Linked DNA regions of Homo sapiens: region 2 is linked to region 1. The links come from fine-mapping of genetic effects on gene expression. A gene starts in region 1. The other region holds a variant in brackets. All regions are shown on one strand. Distances are from middle to middle. Region 1 holds the start of VPS35 (VPS35 retromer complex component). Region 2 has its middle 17 kb from the start of C16orf87.

Region 1 (2,500 bases):
ACCTTGGGGACTTGCAAATTACTGGGTCCCAGGCCGAGTTACTGATCAGCAGGCTTGAGGTGGGACCCAAGAATTTGTATTTCTAACAAGTGACAAGATGATATGGCTGTTGCTGGTCCAGGAACCACATTTTGAGAACCACTGTTCTAAATGACTACCGAGTCCTGCAGGTTTGTCTTCAAATCTTTTAAGTGCTGTTTTCCTTGCCTTCCCTCGCCTGACTGCTCCACGTTTTAGCTACAATGGCTTTATTTCGAACCCCGGATCCCGCTTCCCATCTCAACGCTTTTACAGGAGCTGTCGCCCCTGCCTGGGCTGCTCTTGCCATATCTTTCCTCGCCTAGCATCTGCCATCAATCCGGCCTCAGCGGGAACGGCGCCTGCTTTTCCGAGTTTTGTTTGTTTCTTTGTGTTAAAGGCAGCCGCTAGGCCGCGCTCCACCCCAAGCCCAGTGGCTCAGGAGCATTGCCCGGTTAAGGTCTACACAGTCCTCGCCCTTACAGACAGCGGGGTCTGCGCCTCGTTGTCGGGTTCCCCGCTATAAACCCGACTGCAGTAGGCGTTGGCGGAATGAACGGAAAGTTCTCCCTGGCTCATTTTTCTACCCACGGACAGGGCTGGCTGTTCCCAGGGACGTGTGCCATCGCCGTTTGCTATCGCCCTTCTTGCCATCTCATTCAAGCTCACGGCCGAGAAGTTTTTCTTGAAGTAGGCCCTAAACCCCGCCCGGCCCCAGCGCTCCCCGTCACTCCCCCGCCGCCCGTCGCCTGGGAAGGGCGCGGGCCTCACCTGAGGGCCCAGGGCCGCGAGGCGGAAGCCCAGCCCTGGTCTTGCGCGGCCGAACTCACCTCAGCATGTCGGGCTCGGCGAGGCCCAGGCGCGGGGCTAGGCGCCCGATCAGCTCCGACCCCATGGCGCCGGCACTAAAGCGAACAATTCCCGTGAACGCCGCGGGTCAACGAAACCCGCGCGCAAAGGCTGCACCGGCCAGTGAGAGCCAGGCCCCACCCCCGGCGCATCTGGATTGGTTAGGACAGGACGTTGAGACCGTCCCACAAACCAATCAGGGTCTTCCTTTTGCGCATGCGCATCAATAGCGCAATCGCCAACGCAGATGCGGTGAACGTGGACTTGTCGGCTCCCCCTCCTTCCATTCCTTCTTGACAAACTCATCACACACTGCCTTTCCCTCCTGTTGTCTCCTGCCTGCCGCCGGGCGATCCCCACTGCCCTGCACTGCTCCGCCCACTCTCGCACGCTGTGGTGAGATTGGCTGGCGCTCAGGTCCGTCCATCTAGCGTTAAGTGACAGGGCCAATAAGCACGCGAGACTCGGGTTCCTAGAAGTAGGCCAATCAATGAGCCGCCTGTAGGGCCCGGGGGCGGGGCTAGAGAGGGCGGGGCTTGGAGGGGCCGCAGCGTCACATGACCGCGGGAGGCTACGCGCGGGGCGGGTGCTGCTTGCTGCAGGCTCTGGGGAGTCGCCATGGTGAGTGCTGAGGGGGCAGTGGCACCTGGGTCGACCCTCCTTGTAGCCCCTGCTCTCTCCCACCGCCCCGCACTCCAGCGAGTGGAGAAGGGGCCCCACAGACCGTTCGGGATTAAGACCAGCCCGATTTGGCCTGCGGGATAGGGGACAGCAGGAGGAAGGCCGCGGGCAGGCTGATCCGGGCCGGGGTGGGCGGCGGCTCTTGGCTGCGGCCGTTGCTGAGAGACGGGGCGGCCTCTCTGTGGGGTTGACTTGGCATGTAGGCTTTGGGGTCCATGAAGGCCTGCGGCCTCCTTTAAGTGGAATCGGTCACCTGCCTACCACGAGGGGACCGGTAGTCCTAGGTCTGAGCGTCTGGCCCCCGGGGCGCGTGGAGGCCCTGAGACTCGGAGGTGGCGCCGGGACCCGCCCAGATGTTGCGTTTCTACCTTTGTGCCTAGTTGTGCTCGGCCGTCCCCACGCCCTCCTGGAGGGGTCGCAGTGATTCCTTGGCCTTTCTTGGCCTCATACCCGCCTTCGGCTGCAGTGTTTGTCAGCGAGTTCTGGGGACCTGCTTACATGAATTTCCTGGAAGGACTCAGGCTGTCTTCTAATCCTGACGGTCGCAAAGGAGACTGATTGTTTACTTTAGCATTTGTGCATTGGGCGCACCTTGCCTCTTTTGTCTCGCCATTGATAAAATCCAAGTATTTGACTTGCTGGAAGCAGTACTTCTCCTTAGGGCCCGTCTATGACGGCAGCAAATCGTGGTGTGGCTGTTGGCCGGTAAACTTGAACTTCCTCAAAATGTGAATCTTTGTGTCTGGTTCCCACAAAGGCAAGTTGTCACTTGCATTTTATTAGCGTTTAACATAGCCTGCACTGTGTAAATAAATTTTTTGAGTATATACTGTATGTCCGCTTTAATTACCTTACTCACTCTGTGTAGATAGGCTTCTGTAAATCTGTAAGCCTGGAAACAGATTTCACTTTAAATGTCTTAATGCCAGAAAGGATTAAGTGTTTTACAAAT
Region 2 (3,020 bases), 160 kb before region 1:
CAGCCATCCCTCCAACACCAATAAGGAAGACCCTACCTGCAAGGGGTACAGAAACAAGGGGCAGAGAGAGAAATGGGGCCCTGATGGCTCACATGAGTGCATAGATCCAGCTGTGCCTGAAGCCCATCAGATTCTTGGCTCTTTTGGTTATGTGAGCCAGGAAATACTCTTTTTGCTTAAGCCATTTTGAGTTGAGTTTTTATTTCACAAAATTTCTGATTCCTGATTTATATACTCTCTGAGTTTCATGTTCCTTAACTGTAAGATGGGGCTCATGATTCCACTTTGCAGGGTTTGAGAGAAAGAACGACAAGTAATATAAAGGACAAGCTGCAAAGTAGATGCCCAATAAATAGTAAATAGCATGAAAGGGAAAAGCAAAGGAGGCAAAGCAAGGTGTGGGACTCCTGGAGACTCCTCTGTGCCCAGGGCAGGCAGCAGGCTGAGTTCAGTGCTCAGCGAGGGTGGTGGCTGGCTTGGGCTGTCTAGAGTTACCCAGCTACAAAGGAGGCTGCCTCCTGAGCTGCTTTGAGCCTGTGGCTTTTCAACAATGAATGTGCCCACCCAGTGTGTTATTAGCTCTGTAGGAGGAGAAGAAAAGCACTCTTTCTAGCCAAAAATAAGGCTTCTCATACTCTTTATCTTCATCTGGACAGTTTTGGGGGTTTTGTTTTATTTATTTATTTATTTATTTATTTATTTATTTATTTATTTTATTTTTTTTCGAGATGAAGTCTTGCTCTGTTGCCCAGAATGGAGTGCAGTGGCATGATCATAGCTCACTGCAGCCTCGATGTGCATGCCCGACTAATTTTATTATATTTTGTAGAGACAAAGTCTCATTATGTTTCCCAGGCTGGTCTCAAATTCCTGGGCTCAAGCAATTCTCCTGCCTTGGCCTCACAAACTGTTAGGATTACAGATGTGAGCCCACTGCTCCCAGCTGGACAATTATTTGTATTCATTTTTGTTACTGTTGTTATTTAAAGATGATTCCTTTGTGCAAATATATAAAATTTGTAGAAAAAAAATTAAAAGAATAAACAAGCGATGACCACATTTGTAGCATTGTGATGATTCCCAAAGCTTCTGGTGAAAAAACAAACAAGAAAGAACACAAACCCCTCTAATTTATATAATTTATAACTCAGGATCTATTTTCTTTTTCTTTTTTTTTTTTGAGATGGAGTCTTGCTCTGTCGCCCAGGCTGGCATGCAGTGGCGCAATCTCGGCTCACTGCAACCTCTGCCTCCCAGGTTCAAGTGATTCTCCTGCCTCAGCCTCCCGAGTAGCTGGGATTACAGGCATGCACCAGCATGCCTGGCTAATTTTTGTATTTTTAGTAGAGAC[G/A]GGGTTTCACCATGTTGGCCAGGCTGGTCTCAAACTCCTGACCTCAGGTGATCCACCTGCCTCGGCCTCCCAAAGTGCTGGGATTACAGGTGTGAGCCACCACACCCGGCCTAGGATCTATTTTGTAAGATAAGTGGTTATGTTTATATTTTAAAGATTGCTAAGGCTCCTACTGTTCCTCTCCTCCCACTAAAAATGTAAAAGCCTTAAAAGGCTCATTGATAGGGGCTTTGTGTCCTGAATGTTAACAGTGACAGGTGTAGAGGTGGAGGCTACATCTCATTTCTCCCAATCTCTGGGGGAAGCTCAGGTCCTAATTACAAGAGAGAACAAAAAGTGGCTTTGAATATCCATTTTGGTTCATTCATCAAGTACTTATTATTAAAGAACCTCCTGCTAGGTCTAATTGCATAGTGTGAGATTAGAAGCACCTGCAGTCACTTTAATAGCAAGCATGAAAGATCTTGAGCAAAGTTAGAAACAGGATCAAAAACCAGTGAAAAGTGGACTCTTTGGCACCCAACCTGGTTCTTTCTTTCTGTCTTCAGGTCAAGGACAGATGACCTACACAGATCCTTCTCATTTTTCTCCAGGTCAGTGGGACCCCAAAGGCCCATCTCTCTGTCACTTCCTCTATGGACCTCTCCCCAGCATGCACTGATGGAATTATTGTTTCATTTGAGTACCCATGAAAGCCGGCATCCAAGACGATCCCTACTTCCTGGGATACATGCCCTTATTTAGTCCCCTCCCACACTGACTGGGGTGACCTGTGTAACTAATAGGATATTGCAAAAATGACAGAGTGTGAGTTTTGAAGTTCAGTTATAAAAGATGTTGTGGATTCCCTCCCGTTCTCTGATGGAAAATGTGCCCTGTAGAAGAACAGTTGCTATGTTAAAAGGATACTTAAGCAGTCCTATGGGGAAGCCCACGCTCTAAGTAACTGAGGCCACCTGACCTCAGCCAGTGTAGTGGTTTTAAAAGATGTCCACACATTCTTTGACGTGTCTCCCTTTAAGAAGTGTAGTTTAAACCACGCGCCTGTAATCCCAGCACTTTGGGAGGCTTAGGCACGTGGATTGCTTGAGCTTGAGTTCGAGACCAGTCTGGGCAACATGGCGAGAGCCCATCTCTACCAAAACCCAGCCAACCAAACAAAAAACAAAAATCAGCTGGGCATGGTGTCTCGGGCCTGTGGTCTCAGCTGGAGGGATGGGGTTGGGGCGGGGGCTGAGGTGGGAGGATCACTTGAGCCTGGGAGATTAAGGCTGCAGTGAGCTGAGATCATGTCACTGCACTCCAGCCATGGCAACAGAGTGAAATCCAGTCTCAAAAAAAAAAAAAAAAAAAAAGCCGGGCATGGCGGCTCACGCCTGTAATCCCAGAGGCCGTGGGGCGGGGGCGGGGGGGGGTGTGGATCACCTGAGGTCAAGAGTTCGAGACCAGCCTGGCCAACATGGTGAAACCCCGTCTCTACTAAAAATACAATAATTATCCAGGTGTGGTGGCAGGCACCTGTAATCCCAGTTACTCAGGAGGTTGAGACAGGAGAATCACTTGAACCTGTGAGGCAGAGGTTGCAGTGAGCTGAGACCGTGCCATTGCACTCCAGCCTGGGCGAAAGAGCAAGACTCCGTCTCAAAAAAAAAAAAAAAAAAAAAAGTGG

Evidence for each region. PIP is the estimated chance that this variant, and not a neighbour inherited with it, causes the effect.
Region 2: its variant is the best candidate, but not a certain one, in a credible set for the expression of VPS35 in monocytes (TOPMed, PIP 0.55).

The regions. Positions count from the first base shown.
Region 1 is chr16:46,688,119-46,690,618 of GRCh38, reverse strand. VPS35 (VPS35 retromer complex component) reads left to right here and starts at 1,441. Exons shown (of 17, transcript NM_018206.6): 1 at 1,441-1,488. The coding sequence starts at 1,486. ORC6 (origin recognition complex subunit 6) reads right to left here and starts at 960. Exons shown (of 7, transcript NM_014321.4): 1 at 849-960. The coding sequence starts at 913. RefSeq lists enhancers at 137-206, 257-336, 574-1,272, 1,273-1,970 and silencers at 677-976, 1,297-1,536, 1,687-1,736.
Region 2 is chr16:46,846,640-46,849,659 of GRCh38, reverse strand. No RefSeq gene overlaps it. Among named protein-coding and RNA genes, the nearest start is that of C16orf87, 17 kb to the right of the region's middle. The variant G/A (reference allele first, on the strand shown) is at 1,352.